4 separate regions of the Homo sapiens genome follow, and all the other regions are linked to region 3. Evidence: fine-mapped expression QTL. A gene starts in region 3. Each other region holds a variant in brackets. All regions are shown on one strand. Distances are from middle to middle.

Region 1 (5,153 bases), 21 kb after region 3:
AGAAGGGCGTCAATGAGATGCGGCTGTAGTCCAGGAATAGTCAGGGAAGCAGATAATTTAGTTAAAGTGTCTCAGCCTAATAAGGGAACTGGGCAGGTGGGGAAAACTAAAAGGAGTGCTTAAAAGAGTATTGTCTAAATTGTACCAGAGTTGGGGAGTTTTAAAGGTTTAGAAGCCTGGCCGTCAATACCTACAACAGTTACGGAGGCAAGGGAAACAGGCCCTTGAGAAGAAGGTAATGTGGAGTGGGTAGCCTCCATATTGATTAAGAAGGGGACGGACTTACCCTCCACTGTGAGAGTTACTTAAAGCTAGCATCTGTGATGGTCTACGGGGCTTCCAAGGCGATCGGGCGGCATCAGTCTTCAGCCGCTAAGCCGAGAAGATCTGGGAAGGAGTCAGAGAAGCCAAGAAGATCTGGGAAGGAGTCAGAGAGCCTTGGGCCAGAGTTCCAGGGGCTCTGGGAGTGGCTGCCAGGTGAGTTGAACAGTCTGATTTCCATTGGGGTCCTGCACAGATGGGACGTGGCTTAGGAGGAATCCTGGACTGCAGGCATTCCTTGGCCTGGTGGCCAGATTTCTGGCACTTGTAGCAAGCTCCTGGGGGAGGTGGTTCTGGAGGAACACCTGGCCACTGTGGTTTAGGCGTTTGGAAGTTCTTGTGAGCTGGAGATGTGGCTGGGGTTTGTCTCACAGTGGAGGCAAGGAATTGCAACTCCGAAATATGTTGCTACTTAGCCGCCTCTATTATTGTACACCTTGAAGGCAAGGTTAATTAAGTCCTGTTGTGGGGTTTGAGGGCCAGAATTTAATTTTTGGAGTTTTATTTAATGTCGGGAGCAGATTTGGGTAATAAAATGTATACTGAGAATAAGACGGCCTTTTGACCTTTTAGAGTCTAGGGCTGTAAAGTGTCTTAGGGTTGATGCCAAACGAGCCATGAACTGGGCTGGATTTTTATATTTGATGAAAAAGAGCCTAAACGCTATCTGATTTGGGATAAAGAAAAAGGAGCATTAACCTTGACTATGCCTTTGGCTCCAGCTGACTTTTTAAGAGTAAATTGCTGGTCAGGAGGGGGAGGGCTAGTTACGGAACGAAACTGTAAGCCGGACCGGGTGTGAGGAGGGGAGATGATAAAAGGATTATAGGGTGGAGGAGCAGAGGCTGAGGAAGAATTGGGATCTAGCTTGGCCTGGCAAGGAGGGGAGGTGTCGTCCCTGCGTGGTCTGACACCTCTGAAACCTGGGTGAATAATCAGAGAGGTGTGTCCCTGCAATGATTAAACACGAAGGGAAGGCTGCCTTCCTTAGTCCGTGACTGGCGCCAGAGTTTTGGGTCCACGGATAAAACGTGTCTCCTTTGTCTCTACCAGAAAATGAAAGGAATTGAAATTAAGAGAAGGGAGAAATTGAAGTGTGGCGCCAAGATTGAAAGAAAGAGGTTGAGGGATAGCGAGGGAGGTTGGAGAAGACAGTAAAAAGAGGCCGCTTACTGGATTTGAAATTGGTGAGATGTTTTTTGGGCTGGTCGGTCTGAGGACCTGAGGTCGTAGCAGAGGCCTGACATCTTTCTTAGAGGAATGTGCTCTCTGGTCAAAAGTAGAGAATAACTCCATGAGATTAAAGCAAAACATGCATCTACCTGATTCAATATGTTCAAGGGCCCCACTACATGGGGCAGTTTAATTGTTGGTTTGTTTTTTGAGACAGGGTCTTGCTCTCACCCAAACTGGAGTGAGGTGCAGGATCATAGGTCACTGTAACCTCCAACTCCTAGGCTCAAGCAATCTTCCCACCTCGGCCTCCCAAGTAGCTAGGACTACAGACATGCACCATCATGCCCAGCTACATTGGGCAGTTTAAAAGTAAAAAAATTTGTCAATCTACTTGTTTACTCTCCAGAGAACATAATCGATTTGACTGAAAAAAATTAATACTGGTTTATCTTTAGCTACCAGGACTACAGACAAACCAAAGGAAAGGCAGCACATATTTCCTTACTTTCTGGCAGTCATTAAGTTCCTGCTGGTTTCTGGATGTCAGGGGTCCAGAGACAAGTACATATTTTCTTTTCTTTTTTTTTTTTTTTTTTAGTATTTATTTATTTATTTAGAGACGGAGTCTCACTCTGTCGCCCAGGCTGGAGTGCAGTGGCACAATCTCAGCTCACTGCAAGCTCCA[T/C]CTCCCGGGTTCACGCCATTCTCCTGCCTCAGCCCCCCCAGTAGCTGGGACTACAGGCGCCCGCCACCACGCCCGGCTAATTTTTTGTATTTTTAGTAGAGATGGGGTTTCATTGTGTTAGCCAGGATGGTCCCGATCTTCTGACCTCGTGATCCACCCGCCTCGGCCTCCCAAAGTTCTGGGATTACAGGCGTGAGCCACGGCACCCGGCGACAAGTACATATTTTCTTGATAGCACTACTACAGTACATCTATTCCCGTTGTGAAGGGGGAAAATTCAAACAGCAGTTCACCTGCAATTTGAAAGCCTGAAATACTGCTGATTCCCCACAAGGAGGCTCCATTATCAAGTACAACAATTTTCAAAGCGGGAATGCCCCAACGATTTTGAAAAGCAACACATCAGAACACATTAAACTTTCATAATCTTTAAATGCTTTAACATTCTTATTGATAACAGTTTGGCTTTAATTATCACATAAAAATTTAATCTATCATTTTTGTGCTATGCAAAGCCAAGACAAATGTATCATATATTAAATACATAATTTAATTAAGCTGAGTATTTAAACAAGGCCGAATTTTTTTCTCAGTGGGAGGAAGGGAGGACGATTGGTGATTATACTAAAAACCAATTTTCTTATGCTTCAGTTATTACATGTGATCAAAGAGTTATCACACAGGTTCAACTTTGGCTTTCTAAGTCAAACAAACAAGCTTTATCTTGGCTAAAATTCTTTATAAGGCAAAACATATTGACTGGTAGCTCATTGCCTAATTGATAACACATATGTCATGGCATTATTTTAATATGACTCTTTAACAATAAAACAGTTAATATTTCCTATTGGATCGTGTAACATCTTAAAATATTGGTAATAACAGTTCCAAATGGTTATAAATGTATTTGAAGTATTTGAACAGGAAATAGAGACTAAATATATACATAAATAATTTGTTACAATTTAGATTTCTTTGAATGCATAATGTTGAAATTAGTTTTTCCTTTTGCATCTTTAATTCTCTGAAAGAAGAACTTAGAATGACTTTTAGTGCTCTAAGCGTTCAATTAACTTTTCATTTAAATTATTTATTTTATATGATGGATGGAATGCATCAGGGCAACTGAGAAATAAGGCAAATTTCTTACATTTGGAAAATAGAGTTAGGCTTGTGATTTGAAAGTTTTAGTTTTCTAAGACTATTCTTTAGAGAGTGGGATTTGGGATGTATCTAGCATTTATTGATTGCCTCCATGAAGTCCTTTGCTCATATTATTTCATATCAATGGGCCGGATATTACTATTCCCCATTGCATAGATGAAGAAGCTGAGACTCAAAGAAAAATAACTTGTTCAAGATAATATAGCCAGCTAAACAACAGCAGGATTGGGATTAGAACCCACAGCAGGGATGGATGGGAAGAGAGGCAGACAAGGGTGGAGGTTTGGGGATCTGAGAGTGAGGAGGAGGCAGGATGAAATTAACAAGGGTAGAATCTTTTCTGGGAGTTCACAGAAGTAGTAATTTATATCCCTTAGCATGCCTCCTTTATCCCTATCAGGCCCTCTGCGGCTGGATGAATCTCTGTTTTTCCAGTCAGTTTGAATCTTAGCATCAATATTATATTTGAAATGTAAGAGTGAAATTGCCTTTCTGTGACATCTTTTTAACTGATTACTGGGCACTTAGGCAACCAGCTCCCGAATGTCTGGTTACTCTTAATAAAGGTCAGGATTGCACCTAGCTAGCCTCACTAATAGAGGAGACCTTGTGGCCATCTTTCATAGCAGCCTGAGGCAAGTTGTCATGAATTCACTGAAACTTGCTGATTTCCCCTGTGCACCTGAAAGAACCTGGTTCCCTTAGTGATGTCCATTCAGCCTGAATAACTCTACTGCTTCCCCTCTGCCAGCACACCACCCACCCTGTCAACGATGGTGAAAATCTGCAACCTCTTGTTTACCTTCATGTGTGGGGAGCCTCTCCCATCCTTCTCACAAGGATATAAGGAGATTGCATTCTAACTTGCTTTGATTACTCTTAGCTTACATACAGAATCACCTCTTTAGAGGAAAGGGAAGTTTCTCCCAGTTCTGTCTTTGGAAATGGGAGATTGGTCTTGGAGTCTTAGACTAACACAGATAGATCATTAATCACAAAGACTGTCTCTGGAAACTGAAAAAGGTCAGATTCTCTTAGAAACTGTGGGATGGGTGTGGTGGTACATGCTCATAATCCCAGCACTTCGGGAGGCCAAGGTGAGTAGATGGCTTGAGTCCAGGAGTTCAAGACCAGCCTGGGCAACATGGTGAAACCCCATCTCTATGGAAAAAAAAAAAAAAAAAGTTGGGTGTGGTGTTGTGTGCCTGTAGTCCCAGCTACTCAGGAGGCTGAGATGGGAGGATTGCTTGAGCCCAGGGAGGGTGAGACTGCAGTGAGCCGAGATCATGCCACTGTACTCCAGCCTGGGCAATAGAGTGAGATGAGACCCTGCCTCAAAAAAATAAGTAAATAAAATAAAAATGAAAAGAAAGAAACTGCACAATAAGACAAGGGCAGGGTGGAGAGTTTGTTTTAGTTACACAAGACACCCATGCAACACGACAACACCCCTTTAAAACATACAAAGTCACATAACTTCAGAATTTCAAGATTTAGTTAAAAAAGAAAAGAAAGGATGGAAAATGTGATACTGTATACATTTTCTGCTGTCTTTGTGCTACTGAACATTCTCTAATGAATGTCTCCTAAACATCTTTCTGTGATCTACTTTGAAAGGAGAACAGAAGGGAGGGAAGAACAGAGAGGAGACTAAAGAGAGATAAGGAGAGGGAAGGAAGAAGAGGGGGCTAAGGAGGGAGAGAAGAAGATAAAGAAAATTTACAAAAGAAAGGAAGAAGGAGAGAGAGAAGTTGTTTGCTATTGTGGCATATTAGGTGAGCAATGAACACTTTGTGCATTTATTCGT
Region 2 (5,153 bases), 49 kb before region 3:
ATCATGGTGGATAAGCTTTTTGATGTGCTGCTGGATTCGGATTGCCAGTATTTTAGTGAGGATTTTTGCATCAATGTTCATCAGGGATATTGGTCTAAAATTCTCTTTTTTTGTTGTGTCTCTGCTAGGCTTTGGTATCAGGATGATGCTGGCCTCATAAAATGAGTTAGGGAGGATTCCCTCTTTTTCTATTGATTGGAATAGTTTCAGAAGGAATGGTACCAGCTCCTCCTTGTACCTCTGGTAGAATTCGGCTGGGAATCCATCTGGTCCTGGACTTTTTTTGGTTGGTAAGCTATTAATTATTGCTTCAATTTCAGAGCCTGTTATTGGTCTATTCAGAGATTCAACTTCTTCCTGGTTTAGTCTTCGGAGGGTGTATGTGTCGAGGAATTTATCCATTTATTCTAGATTTTCTAGCTTATTTGCATAGAGATGTTTATAGTATTCTCTGATGGTAGTTTGTATTTCTGTGGGATCGGTGGTGATATCCCAGTTATCATTTTTTATTGCGTCTATTTGATTCTTCTCTCTTTTCTTCTTTATTAGCCTTGCTAGCAATCTATCGATTTTGTTGATCTTTTCAAAAAACCAGCTCCTGGATTCATTGATTTTTTTGAAGGTTTTTTTGAGTCTCTATTTCCTTCAGTTCTGCTCTGATCTTAGTTATTTCTCACCTTCTGCTAGCTTTTGAATGTGTTTGCTCTTGCTTCTCTAGTTCTTTTAATTGTGATGTTAGGGTGTCAATTTTAGATCTTTCCTGCTTTCTCTTGTGGGCATTTAGTGCTATAATTTTCCCTCTACATACTGCTTTGAATGTGTCCCAGAGATTCTGGTATGTCGTGTCTTTGTTCTCATTGGTTTCAAAGAACATCTTTATTTCTGCCTTCATTTCGTTATGTACCCAGTAGTCATTCAGGAGCAGGTTGTTCAGTTTCCAAGTAGTTGAGCGATTTTGAGTGAGTTTCTTAATCCTGAGTTCTAGTTTGATTGCACTGTGTTCTGAGAGACAGTTTGTTATAATTTCTGTTCTTTTACATTTGCTGAGGAGTGCTTTAGTTCCAACTATGTGGTCAATTTTGGAATAAGTGCGGTGTGGTGCTGAGAAGAATGTATATTCTGTTGATTTGGCGTGGAGAATTCTGTAGATGTCTGTTAGGTCTGCTTGGTGCAGAGCTGAGTTCAATTCCTGGATATTCTTGCTAACTTTCTGTCTCATTGATCTGTCTAATGTTGACAGTGGGGTGTTAAAGTATCCCATTATTATTGTGTGGGAGTCTAAGTCTCTTTCCAGGTCTCTAAGGACTTGCTTTATGAATCTGGGTGCTCCTGTATTGGGTGCATATATATTTAGGATAGTTAGCTCTTCTTGTTGAATTGATCCCTTTACCATTATGTAATGGCCTTCTTTGTCTCTTTTGATCTTTGTTGGTTTAAAGTCTGTTTTATGAGAGACTAGGATTGCAACCCCTGCCTTTTTTTGTTTTCCATTTGTTTGGTAGATCTTCCTCCATCCCTTTATTTTGAGCCTATATGTGTCTCTGCATGTGAGATGGGTCTCCTGAATACAGCACACTGATGGGTCTTAACTCTTTATCCAATTTGCCAGTCTGTGTCTTTTAATTGGAGCATTTAGCCCATTTACATTTAAGGCTAATATTGTTATGTGTGAATTTGATCCTGCCATTATGATGTTAGCTGGTTATTTTGCTTGTTAGTGGATGCAGTTTCTTCCTAGCCTCAATGGTCTTTACAATTTGGCATGCTTTTTCAGTGGCTGGTACCAGTTGTTCCTTTCCATGTTTAGTGCTTCCTTCAGGAGCTCTTGTAGGGCAGGCCTGGTGGTGACAAAATCTCTCATCATTTGCTTGTCTATAAAGGATTTTATTTCTCCTTCATTTATGAAGCTTAGTTTGGCTGGATATTAAATTCTGGGTTGAAAATTCTTTTCTTTAAGAATGTTGAATATTGGCCCCCACTCTCTTCTGGCTTGTAGTGTTTCTGCTGAGAGGTCAGCTGTTAGTCTGCTGGGCTTCCCTTTGTGGGTAACCCGACCTTTCTCTCTGGCTGCCCTTAACATTTTTTCCTTCATTTCAACTTTGGTGAATCTGACAATTATGTGTCTTGGAGTTGCTCTTCTGGAGGAGTATCTTTGTGGCATTCTCTGTATTTCCTGAATTTGAATGTTGGCCTGCCTTGCTAGATTGGGGAAGTTCTCCTGTATGATATCCTGCAGAGTGTTTTCCAACTTGGTTCCATTCTCCCTGTCACTTTCAGGTACACCAATCAGACGTAGATTTGGTCTTTTCACATACTCCCATATTTCTTGGAGGCTTTGTTCATTTCTTTTTATTCTTTTTTCTCTAAACTTCTCTTCTCGCTTCATTTCATTCATTTGATCTTCCATCACTGATAGCCTTTCTTCCAGTTGATCTAATCGGCTACTGAGGCTTATGCATTTGTCATGTAGTTCTCGTGCCTTGTTTTTCAGCTCCATCAGGTCCTTTAAGGACTTCTCCGCATTGGTTATTCTAGTTAGCCATTCGTCTAATTTTTTTTCAAGGTTTTTAACTTCTTTGACATGGGTTTGAACTTCCACCTTTAGCTCTGAGTAGTTTGATCGTCTGAAGCCTTCTTCTCTCAACTCATCAAAGTCATTCTCTGTCCAACTTTGTTCCATTGCTGGTGAGGAGCTGCGTTCCTTTGGAGGAAGAGAGGCACTCTGATTTTTAGAATTTCCAGTTTTTCTGCTCTGTTTTTTCCCCATCTTTGTGGTTTTATCTACCTTTGGTCTTTGATGATGGTGACGTACAGATGGGGTTTTGGTGTGGATGTCCTTTCTGTTTTTTAGTTTTCCTTCTAACAGTCAGGACCTTCAGCTGCAGGTCTGTTGGAGTTTGCTGGAGGTCCACTCCAGACCCCGTTTGCCTGGGTATCAGCAG[C/T]GGAGGCTGCAGAACAGCGGATATTGGTGAACATCAAATGTTGCTGCCTGATCATGCCTCTGGAAGTTTTGTCTCAGAGGAGTACCCGGCCATGTGAGGTGTCAGTCTGCCCCTACTAGGAGGTGCCTCCCAGTTACGCTACTCGGGGGTCAAGGACGTGCTTGAGGAGGCAGTCTGTCCATTCTCAGATCTCCAGCTGCGTGCTAGGAGAACCTCTACTCTCTTCAAAGCTGTCAGACAGGGACATTTAAATCTGCAGAGGATTCTGCTGCCTTTTGTTTGGCAATGCCCTGCCCCCAGAGGTGGAGTCTACAGAGGCAGGCAGGCCTCCTTGAGCTGCGGTGGGCTCTACCCAGTTTGAGCTTCCAGGCTGCTTTGTTTACCTAGTCAAGCCTCAGCAATGGCAGGCACCCCTCCCCCAGCCTCGCTGCTGCCTTGCAGTTTGATCTCAGACTGCTGTGCTAGCAATGAGTGAGGCTCCGTGGGCATAGGACCCTCCAAGCCAGGCACGGGATATAATCTCTTGCTGTGCCGTTTGCTAAGACAGTTGGAAAAGCACCATATTGGGGTGGGAGTGACTTGATTTTCCAGGTGCCATCCATCACCCCTTTCTTTGACTAGGAAAGGGAATTCCCTGACCCCTTCCACTTCCCAGGTGAGGCAGTGCCTCCCCCTGCTTTGGCTCACACTCGGTGCACTGCACCCACTGTCCTGCACCCACTTTCTGACACTCCCCAGTGAGATGAACCCAGTACCTCAGTTGGAAATGCAGAAATCACCCGTCTTCTGCGTCGCTGACGTTGGGAGCTGTAGACTGGAGCTGTTCCTATTCGGCCATCTTGGCTCCACCCCCCTCAAGTGAACTTTTTTATATGATGTGAAGCAATGCTTGAATTTCATTGTTTTCTCTTACACACATCCAGTTGTTCCAGTACTATTTTTGAAAAGACTATGCTTTTGCCATTGTATTACCCTAGCAACTTTTCAAAAATCAATTTTATGTGGTTGTTCCTTTATTCTAAATGCCTAACTTTATACCAATATCACACTGTCTTAATTACTATAGCTTCACATGCAGTCTGAACATCAGGTAATAGAATTCTTCACCTGTATGCTTGTCTTTTAAAATTATTTTCACTATTCTAAATTCTTTGATTTCCATATACATTTTAGAATCACCTAATCTACACACACACACACACACACACACACACACACACACACACACCCCTGCTGAGATCTTAATTGGGTTTGTGTTGAATCTATAAGTCAATGTTGGAAGAATAGACTTTTTAATGAAATTATATTTTCTAATCCAAGAATATAGTATTTATCTCCATTTATTTAGGTCTTTATCTCAAAAAAATTGTGCAGCTGTAGTGTAGTATCAGGTATCCCAGGACTACCCTTAGGCTTAATGATTAGCTAAAATGATTCACAGGACTCAAAAATTGTTATGGTTATTGTTATTCCAGTGAAAGATAGAGTAAAATCAGCAAAGGGAAAAGGCACAGAGGGCAAAGTATGAAGGAAATCTGGAGCAACCTTCTCAGGGATGCACTTAATTTCCCCAACAACGTGTGACTCCACATACAAAGTGTTGCCAACCAGGGAGGCTCACCCAGGCTTGAGTGTCCAGAGTACTTATGGGGCGGGAAGATGGTCAGTCATGCGGGCACAGAGTGCCTTTGTGACTGGCCTCAGCTGCTCAGACAGCCACTGAGATGCTCAGCTAGTATTACTCCTTTATGCTGTTCGTGTGGTAAGTTGCACTGATTGAGTCTGACTTTTAAACCAAGCTCCCATTCTTAGCATAAAGCCCACTTGTTCAAAAGCTTTTATTGTTCTTGTCTATTGCTGGATTCAGTTTGCTAATCTTTTTGTGTCTGTGTTAAGACCACCCTGCTGTGCCAGTGCTGTGGTCTGGAAAGTGCCCCCCAGTGGAAAGCTGGGTGATTGCAGGACCCACCTCCTTTGTTTCTCTTCCAGGTGTCACAGTCCTGGGCTGCCCATTCTTCAACATCTGAAAACATTTCTTTCATATGTTTTGCTTCTTTCTTCTATTTGTTTGCAGTGGGAGGGCAGGTCCAATTCAGTTATTCTGTCATTTTGGAACTAGACATTTTTAGATAAAAATAATTTTTGAAAAAACAAAAATGAATAACACGACTTTTATTAAAATGTTCAGATTGTGTCAGTAACCATTGTATT
Region 3 (5,153 bases):
GGGACTACAGGCACATGCCACTACACTGGCCTAATTAGAAGAGTTTAAATAAGTAAGTGGCATGAAGAATTTTTTTAAGAGCATTATGCCTAGCTGCCTACAATGTAGGAACTGGATGTGGGAAGACCGGTTAGGACAACAGTGACAACAGTAGTCCAAAGAGAGGATGAGAGCCAAGATTCAGGATGGAGGAGATGAATGGATGCAAAGATAGTCCGCAACTAAAATCCATAGGTCTTGGTTGATGAATTGGATGTGGACTGGTGGTAAGGAGGAGGGATTCATCAAGGAAAACTCTTAAGTTTTTGGCTTAAAAGCTAGAAGGATGGTTCTACCATATTCTGAGATACAGAGTATTGAAGACCAAGTTTTACCGGGGAAGTAGGAAGAAGATCATGCACCCATTTGATGTGCCACTGGCACATCAAGGAGAGAGATGCCAAGTAGCAGGACATGTAGGTTGGGGCCACAGACATAATTTGAGTAATGAATATATAGATTATCTTTGAAGTCCTGGATGTGAGTGAGATGGGGCCGAGGGGGGAGTCCAGAGGAGCTGAGAACAGGGCTTTGATGAACTCCAGCATGTAAAGGCAGGTGGAAGAGGATGAACTGGCAGAGGAGAGGACACTGAGAAAGATGAGGAAGGAAGGAAGCAGAAGAGTGCAGTCCTTCTGGTCCTTCTGAACCATGCACTTGCTCACGGCCCTCCCTTATGCTATTAGCCCCTCCTCCCCTGATGAAGTTCAGTCTCCAGAGCATGGCCTACAAGGCCCATCATAAGGTAGCCCCAATAAACTTTGATCATTTATTTCCTTCTTCACTCCCCATCTCCAATATCCTAGAATTCAGACACTGCTCACTTCAACACTAACCTCCAGACTTTGCACATTCATCAAATGTTCTTTCCCTTTCTTCTTTTTTTAAAAAGTCTAATGTCACCTCTTGTACAAAGTCTTTGTCAGGAAGACAAATAATTTCACTCACATATTTTTAAGACAATATTTAGCACACTGTAATATACTGTGTTGGCCGGTGGCTTAAGCTTATTTGGGCTGGGTTTCCTATCTTATATGTTGTTTCCTAAAACTAAGCACAATCTGAGAAGATTGTGTTTGCCAAATAAATTAATGTATGATAATTATATTTTTGCTTTGATTGACAAAATTAAGACAAAATCAGTCTAGATTAAGCTGGCATTGACTGCTCCCAAGAGGATATTTGGCAATATCTGAAGACAGTTTTAGTTGTCACAGCTGGGAGAGGTGCTACTGGCATCTCGTAGGTAGGAACTAGGGATGCTGCTGAACATCATACAATGTATAGATGGCCCCTGCAATAAAGAATTATCTGGCCCAAAAGTCCATGACGCTTAGGCTGACAAACCCAGTTTTGGTTTGCCACCTTAAACGTTCTTCTATTTATACTGTAAATTTCCTGTAGGATATTTTTTCTGAATGAAATAAGCACTCCAATACTAATACCATTGATTCTAAGATCTACAAATATACTAGTCATTCTTTAGAGCAGTGTTTCTCAAATTTGTGCATCAGAATCACTGGGAGGGCTTGTTAAAACATAGGTGCCTGGGCCCCACCACAGGAGTTTCAGTAGATCAGGGGTATCCTATGCACTGTAGGCCTGATAATTTGTATTTCTCAAGGTTTCCAGGGGATGTTGATGCTGCTGGTCCAATGTCCATACTCTGTGAACCACTGCTTTAGCGAAGAGCCCAGGGTTAGTTAACCTGAGGGTTTATCACACTTTTCCCCATTAGAGGCCATGCCCAGAAACTTGAGATGCAACTTCCCTGGGTAGCCCTGCCTTTCTTTTCCCCGTATCTCCCAGCCAGGTACCTGGAGCTGCATCTGTGGTGATTGCCAGGCTGGCAGCACCTTAGACTCAAAACATACCCCATTCCTGAGAACAGATGAAGGCTGCTAGCAGGGCAAGGCACCAATCCCTCTCCCCCCATTTATCAGCCAGTAGGGGCCTGAGGTCCAGGCCCTTGGAAATGAAGTAACATCTAAAGGAACTATCCTAGCTCCTCAGAGCACCTGTATCAGAATCACCTACGGGGTTTAGAGTCATGGGCCCATCCTTAGTAATTCTGTCAGCCTGGGAATCTGCATTTTATGAAACTCTTGACATCAGTGCTTCTGTAAGTGTGGTCCTGGGACCAGCATCATCATCACCACCCGCGAACCCGTTAGAGATACAAATTCTTGGGTACTTCCCCAGACATATTCGAAACGCTGGGGTTCAGACCTCGTCACTTGTATTTTAACACGCCCTCTATGTGAATTCTGTTAGCTCAAGTTTGAGAATTACTGGTTTAAATTAGTCTGCTTCTCAAGTTTAAGATGTCTGGATGTAGACTTCTGGATTTTTCTTTCACTTCACTTTCTAGATTCCTTTCCTACCTGTATATACCAAAAGCACCCACAGGAAGCAGAGTGCCCCCCCCACCACTCCCCAAAAGGCCTGCCTGTAGAACATTTGTACCCTACAAAAGAGAGCAAGAGTGAACTTTCGTTGAATCTGGTCATTTGTTTGCATGCCAGTCGGCACTTTATCTGGCCGGACATTGGTCCCTCAGGAGGTCGACCTGGCACTCTCGGAAACCCGAACACCCGGGCCGGTAACCTCCGGAGTGGCGGTGTCGCGGGTCGGCTTTGCAGCGGGTACTGGGCTGCCGTCCCGCCCCGCGCTCCTGCGTAAACACGCGGTTCCCTCGGCAACGCTGGAACCCACGTCAAAGGCTCCGCCAGGTCCCCAGCGACCGCCACCCCTCCGGCCGAGCCCAGCTCCCCGCGGCGGCCGCTAGCCCCCGGCCCCGAGCCACCACTCCGACCTAGCGGCCGCCGCCCCCGGTGCGGGATGAGGAGATCCGCGGCCGCCACTGGGCCCCATGGAGGAGCCGCAGCCGCCCCGCCCACCAGCGAGCATGGCCTTACTGGGCAGCCAGCACTCCGGCGCCCCCTCCGCGGCCGGCCCACCTGGCGGGACTTCCTCCGCGGCCACGGCGGCCGTGCTCTCCTTCAGCACCGTGGCGACCGCGGCGCTGGGGAACCTGAGCGACGCAAGCGGAGGCGGCACAGCTGCCGCTCCCGGTGGCGGCGGCCTTGGCGGGTCCGGGGCAGCGCGGGAGGCGGGGGCGGCGGTGAGGCGGCCGCTAGGCCCGGAGGCGGCGCCGCTGCTGTCGCACGGAGCTGCAGTGGCGGCCCAGGCGCTCGTCCTCCTGCTCATCTTCCTGCTGTCTAGCCTTGGCAACTGCGCGGTGATGGGGGTGATTGTGAAGCACCGGCAGCTCCGCACCGTCACCAACGCCTTCATCCTGTCGCTGTCCCTATCGGATCTGCTCACGGCGCTGCTCTGCCTGCCCGCCGCCTTCCTGGACCTCTTCACTCCGCCCGGGGGTTCGGCGCCTGCCGCCGCCGCGGGGCCCTGGCGCGGCTTCTGCGCCGCCAGCCGCTTCTTCAGCTCGTGCTTCGGCATCGTGTCCACGCTCAGCGTGGCGCTCATCTCGTTGGACCGTTACTGCGCTATCGTGCGGCCGCCGCGGGAGAAGATCGGCCGCCGCCGCGCGCTGCAGCTGCTGGCGGGCGCCTGGCTGACGGCCCTGGGCTTCTCCTTGCCCTGGGAGCTGCTCGGGGCGCCCCGGGAACTCGCGGCGGCGCAGAGCTTCCACGGCTGCCTCTACCGGACCTCCCCGGACCCCGCGCAGCTGGGCGCGGCCTTCAGCGTGGGGCTGGTGGTGGCCTGCTACCTGCTGCCCTTCCTGCTCATGTGCTTCTGCCACTACCACATCTGCAAGACGGTGCGCCTGTCGGACGTGCGCGTGCGGCCGGTGAACACCTACGCGCGCGTGCTGCGCTTCTTCAGCGAGGTGCGCACGGCCACCACCGTCCTCATCATGATCGTCTTCGTCATCTGCTGCTGGGGGCCCTACTGCTTCCTGGTGCTGCTGGCCGCCGCCCGGCAGGCCCAGACCATGCAGGCCCCCTCGCTCCTCAGCGTGGTGGCCGTCTGGCTGACCTGGGCCAATGGGGCCATCAACCCTGTCATCTACGCCATCCGCAATCCCAACATTTCGATGCTCCTAGGGCGCAACCGCGAGGAGGGCTACCGGACTAGGAATGTGGACGCTTTCCTGCCCAGCCAGGGCCCGGGTCTGCAAGCCAGAAGCCGCAGTCGCCTTCGAAACCGCTATGCCAACCGGCTGGGGGCCTGCAACAGGATGTCCTCTTCCAACCCGGCCAGCGGAGTGGCAGGGGACGTGGCCATGTGGGCCCGCAAAAATCCAGTTGTACTTTTCTGCCGAGAGGGACCACCAGAGCCGGTGACGGCAGTGACCAAACAGCCTAAATCCGAAGCTGGGGATACCAGCCTCTAAGACGGTTGGAATGGCCAGCTTATGAAGGCAAATTTCCACTCGCATTATTTAATGATGGAAGATTCTGGGGGAGAGTTGTGGATTTCATAAAGCCAAACATTTAAAGCTAGAGACGGGGGAGGCTTACCACTTTCCCCAAACAACATAAAAGACAATGTCCCTTCTTCAAAAGTGCCAAAAGGAATGTAAAATGCAAAAATTAAAACAATCTTAAACCACATAACCAAGCATTGTGAACTGTAAGTGCCAAAAATGACAAAAATAACATTCACTATAACTGAAAAGCTCATATTATAGGACCACACTGTGAAACAAACAAAACATTGAATGCAACCAGTATTGTTCAACTACACAGAATTTCAGGAATGAATGGAGACCTTCAGAGCTGCTTGAAAGCCCCTCTAAATCGCTACCATCCAACAAAACTTTAGCTTCTAGAGCTTGCACCTCTGACATGCTTTGGGTGCTTAGATTGCAAGTGGAAAAGTCTTATCCTTACACACATTGGTGCACCTCCTCACCCCACCCCCTAATAACCTTTGTGGAAAATTTTTAATTCATAACCCATTTAAAATCATTTTAGGATTTTGAAAAGCTGGTTATTATTAGATAAAATTCAACCATCTGAAGGACAAATAGAAGTATGAACATAAAGAAATGTGTCTTTTAAATGTTTTCCAAGATTATATGTAAAAATTAACATTCCTTCCACCCGCGTCATACCTCCAAAATGATCTTCCTTGGAAAACTTTGAAGT
Region 4 (5,153 bases), 220 kb before region 3:
GATTTCCAATAGAAAGAGAACATGAGGTTGAGTCTGGAATAAGCTTCAGTATAGGACCAAAATAATGCGTTAGTAAGGAGAAATGGGATTGGCAGATTCATACATCAACCATAGTGAATGTCACCAAATATCTTGTGTCAGTTGACTTTTAAATATTAACCGAGAACCAAAATGTCACTCCCCTAGGTACAAATCAAATTGCTTCTCCTTTCTTTTGCCTGCACTCTTAAATGCTGAATAACCTCATAAGTAAGATTTCTATTAGGCAAATTAGTGCATGCGTATTAGGAACCACAGTTTCTGGAGTGGAGTTCAGTGGGACTAACTATATTCCCTATGATTAGTCACTTTAATCATAGAATTATGAGGAAACTCATAAATTATCAAATCATATTCTCAAAGCCTTTTTTAGCAATGCTTAACCATGTGCTCTGTAAGTATACATTTGATTTTGTTCCCTAGAGACAATTGTTTCTGTTTTATGAAGTGTGAAACATTACTCATTGGCAATTATGAGTAACTTTTATACTTGTTAAGTTTTATTGTTGTGTTAATGTAAACAGAAACACTTGTGTTTGTTTCCATTTGTTCAATACACATTTATTAGGCATCTACTTTCGCCAGAAGCTGGGAGATACAAAGATGACCATGAGTCAGTTCCTGCCCTCTAGCAATTCAAAGGAGACATAGGTATAAACTTCAACAGCAGGAAAGGCAAGTGGAATCCTTCTGTGGGGGCAGAAGTAGTCTATCTACCCAGCAGCCAGCACAATGCATGGTATAACATTGGATGTGTAATAAATCTTGTTCAAATAAATAAAATAATCATGAGAAGATGTACCAGAAATAGTAATGCCATAAGGAAAGGAAGACAAATGGAGTTGAACCTTGAGCTAAGTCTTGAAATATGGAGCAGGTGAGAGAATTTCAGTTGAAGAAAAGAATGTGTGTAAAGTCCTCAAAGGGTGAAATAGCATGTGATTTCAGGGAATTAGGATAATTCCATTTTTCTGGAAAGTATGTCAGTGGCAAAGCCATGGGAGATGAAGATGGGGAGATGGGAAGGAGCCACATTAAAAAGCACATGCTGGATCTTCTAGCTTCTTAAAGGGTAGCACCATGATCAGATTTATGTTTAGAAAGATTTCTCCATGAGAAGGACAGATTGGTAACCAAAAGGATAGTTAGAAGATCACTAAAAAAATCTAGTGAGCAGTGACGAGGGTCTAAACTATAAACTAAAGCTGTAGCAGCTGAGAGGATGAATTTGGGAGAGATTTGGAAAGTAGAAATCAAGGTTTGAGGGTAGGGGAAGGGAACAGTGAGACAGAAACAGGAATCTGGGATGATCCTTGTGTTCTGATGTGATTAGCTGGATGAAAAAGAAGGCTGCTTAGTGGAACACGATCTGAGAAGGTGATACAGGGAAAATGAGTTCATAGATGCCTAGGAGACATTCAGGAAGATTTATTTAGTAAGCAGTTAGTGACCTGAACCTGGAACTCAAGAGCTAGGTCCAGGCTGGAGATTCAGAGCTGGTGGTACCCATGTCTGGTGGTAACTATGAGCATGAGTGAGAGAGCCCAGTGGAGAATACAGAGTATTAGTGACCCAGATTCATTATTTCCCAGTGCCTACTGCAGTGTGTGGTTTGGGGATGGAATTGATATGACACTCATCATTGATAATCATTATTGGAGCTAGAAAAAAGGGTTGAAAAAATAGTATGGAGAACATTTTGGCATTTTCAAATTACCATTTTTTAAGATTCAGAATGATTTTCTATTGAGAGACAGTTACTCATGGAATAAAACATATGAATCAAGAACCAAGTAAATTAAAAGCAAAGTAACTGACTTGTTTTTGTTAGAGGAAATATATGTTCATATGTCTAAATTAAGAATTGTTCATAGCAAATAATGCTTGGTAAGTTTTTGTTGGATTTGTACATGTGGAAATCTAAGATGTATTTAATAAATATGGAAATAATAAAATAGATTTGTAGTTTTATGAGCACTTAGATGAAAAGAGAAGCAGAGAAAAAAGAGAAAATGGGAAATAGAGATAGACACACACATACTATTAATATAGAAACTTATAAAAGACAAAATAACTGTAATCCATAATTCAACCACCACTGTCAAAATTTCAACATATATTCTATTATTATGTCTGTACATATTTTTGTATACTTGTTATGTTGGCTGTATAAATTCATATACTTCTTTTTTTAACTTGATATGATAAACATTTTCCCAAGTTATTAAAAACTCTTCATAAATATGGTTTTTCATGACAGCATAAAGATGCCTATCACTTTTCAGTTACTTAGTTACACATTCTCTATTGTTCAACATTTAGATTTTAGCTTTAAAAAACTTTAAATACCACTCCATTGAGTATCTTTGTTTATAAGGCTTTGTGTTCATTTCAAATTATTTTCTTGAGATAGATTTCTGGAAATAGAATTACCATACTAAAACATATGAACATTTTAAGGCTCCTATTGCCAAATTGTGTTTTAGAAAGATGATACAAATGTATACTTCCATCAGCTTTATGTGGCAATGCCTGGACACACTAAATAATACAGCATGCTATAAAGCCTTGTATTTGGGTTCATTGGGAAATTGGTAATTGGCACTAACCTTGTATTTTATTCAGTGAATTCACTGATTAGCTCAAATTAGTAAAGATAGACTTATTGTAAACAATGACAACTATCTCCTTTTTTATTTAACTTTTATGCAAAATAACTTTAAAATGGAATTCAAAACACACTTCCCTATATTTTGCATGGTTTCACTTGGAAATACTTCTCCAGAAGGAAAGAAATGCTTCTCTAACTGGTATGGAGGGAAAGAGGGATTGCTCTTTCCTTTTTAGTACTATTAAGCAACAATTGTCTATTTTGGAGGAGGTTTATGACTTCTTTCAAAAACAAAGTATCCCATTTTTTCCCCAGAGCAAAGC[T/C]CTTAGAAGGCAATAGCTAAGAGCTATGTTACTAACATGATTGTTCTAGGAGGAGCACTGCTCAGCTCCCATGGCAACAGGTACCATGGAAATAGACACACTTTGTCAGAGGTATTGTAAATGCTATTGGGTATGAGGGCAGTAGTTGCAGTGAAATTTCATTGTTGCTATGTTGTAGAGGTTGCACAACACACCAAGCCTTATTTAGATTCTGTTGATAAGTCTGACCTGGTTTTTAAGAAGTTCTATTTTTTTAAAAAAGAAAAACAAACCCCAACCCCCAACCTGTTAGACCTAAGATAAAATGAGAACAATTTGCAAGGTTCAAATTGTTCTGTATGGAAGCTCTGGAAAATTATATGCAAGTCTGTATGGAAGCTCTGGAAAATTATGATATTTCAGAGAACTGTGAACTTTGAAGTGTCTGTGGCAATAAGTGATAGGTTGAGTGTGAATAACTTAAATCCAGAAGTCATCCCCAGACTTCATTTGAGCTAAACAGTTCAGCTTCTTCTCATAGGTCAGGTCACTGTTAATTTTTGCAGTGACAATGATTAACAATGAAATTATTAAGAGTGATTACTAATATAACACCTGTTTTGTACTCTGCTGTTTTACTGTTCAACCCTTTTTAATAACCATTAAAAGGTACCTATGACTAGTACTATAAGCAGATTCATCCCACAGTTGGGGAAATTAAGGCATAGAGAAGAAATAAAGACCTCATGGTCTTAGCTGGAGAGAGGTAGAGTCTGGATTGAGAAAAGTTAGAGCTCCAGTCTCTAGCCTTATTTTACAAACATTGATACAATGGTAAAGATGAAACCTAAGTCAAAGGGTGTATGGGTTATCATTGGTGGCTCTGTTTGTTTAATAGATAACTCAATTTAGCAGAGAGGGCTGTACTATTGTTTCATTTCAGAGCACCTGTGCAACTTCTGATGCTTAAGAGGGAAATTGAGAATACTTCTCTAATTCATACCCAAGCCACCCTAACAATTACACATGATAATACTCAATACAAAATGTCAAGTTAGGGATTATCTTGGCCTTTTTCTAGTAGATTCCTACCTGTTCCCAGTCTTTTCCAGACACTGTCATCCCTCACAATCCAATCTGTCACTCTGCCAGGAGCCAAGAGGATTCAGATGCTATCCCTTGCTTTTTGAAATCACAGTTGAACTCAAGAACCCAACAGAGTTAGATACTAAGACCCTGCACCTGTATCTATGGTCCTTAAACTTATATGTGCATAAGAATTACCTGGATAGCCTGTTAAAAATGTACATTCTCAGCTTCCCATTCTGACTAAGTAAGCCTGGGGTGAGGCCCAGGAAGCTGCATTTTTAACCAACTCCCCCAGTGCTTCTGAAGCAGGTGGTCTGTGGTCACGCTTTGAGAAACCTGAAGATCAGCATGTCAGTCTGTTAAAGTCTCTTCCACACCAGTGAGCCTAAGGACAATGGGGACAGTGGAGGTTGAGGAAGGGGCAGTAGTGAGAAGGGAGGCCTGTACCTCTGTGCCTGGGAGCCCAGCAAGGAACCTTCAGCTCTTGAGGTCCCAACATGTGCTGTGGCCCACGCTGGACCTCAGTATGTGGGAAAAAGCAACCAGCTTTCAGAATTCACAAAGGATGAGGCACAAGGTAGAGAAACAGGGATGCTGCAATCTGCAATCTGAGTGCGCTGGCCCCTGAGTCAGTAAGAGTTGTCTGTAGATACCTAAATGTTTAAATCAATTTTCTTCTCTCAGACAGTGGAATCCAGAACATATATTAAAAAGAGACCACTTCCAGCCTGTAGGAAAAATGAAGTTTTGTAGCTCATTGATGGCTTCTTTCTTGCTGTTAGGAAGGCCAAGCCAGAGAAGCTAAAATGATTGAGCTAGGCCATTTTCGCATTAGCATTCAACCCTTAAATAAAACTTTGGAGAAAAGACCCCTTTTCACATTCCCCACGCACCCCTACCACCACTGCCTAAGCTTTGGCAGCCTTCCAAATCCTCCAGACCCCAGAACAGGACTTGTCCCTGGGCTTGTTTTCCAGGGTTTATATGACGCCCTTGTTCCCTTCTTGGCAATTCAAGTGAAACTCACCATCTCAGGCCACAGCGTGGTAGTCATTGTTGTAAATAGCTTTGACTATTTATTTTTCTAAAATGCCTAGAATAGCATTTAGATG

Alleles and levels. Alleles are on the strand shown, and positions count from the first base shown. SD is a standard deviation of normalised expression in the study named. Not every link is listed here.
As copies of T replace C in region 4, the expression in tibial artery of the gene that starts at base 2,758 in region 3 goes down (small effect, 0.30 SD a copy in GTEx).

Evidence for each region.
Region 1: its variant is fine-mapped to the expression of GPR135 in blood mononuclear cells (TOPMed, PIP above 0.99).
Region 2: its variant is fine-mapped to the expression of GPR135 in T cells (TOPMed, PIP above 0.99).
Region 4: its variant is fine-mapped to the expression of GPR135 in tibial artery (GTEx, PIP 0.95).

What each region holds. Positions count from the first base shown.
Region 1 is chr14:59,441,766-59,446,918 of GRCh38, reverse strand. No RefSeq gene overlaps it. Among named protein-coding and RNA genes, the nearest start is that of GPR135, 21 kb to the left of the region's middle. The variant T/C (reference allele first, on the strand shown) is at 2,183.
Region 2 is chr14:59,511,823-59,516,975 of GRCh38, reverse strand. The region is part of intron 17 of CCDC175 (coiled-coil domain containing 175); the gene reads left to right. Among named protein-coding and RNA genes, the nearest start is that of JKAMP, 30 kb to the right of the region's middle. The variant C/T (reference allele first, on the strand shown) is at 2,943.
Region 3 is chr14:59,462,985-59,468,137 of GRCh38, reverse strand. It overlaps GPR135 (G protein-coupled receptor 135), which reads left to right and starts at 2,758. Exons shown (of 1, transcript NM_022571.6): 1 at 2,758-5,153. The coding sequence starts at 2,912. The coding sequence ends at 4,396. It also overlaps a transcript of L3HYPDH not described here. RefSeq lists a silencer at 2,688-3,227.
Region 4 is chr14:59,677,995-59,683,147 of GRCh38, reverse strand. All of the region lies in intron 3 of RTN1 (reticulon 1), which reads left to right. Among named protein-coding and RNA genes, the nearest start is that of MIR5586, 34 kb to the right of the region's middle. The variant T/C (reference allele first, on the strand shown) is at 2,974.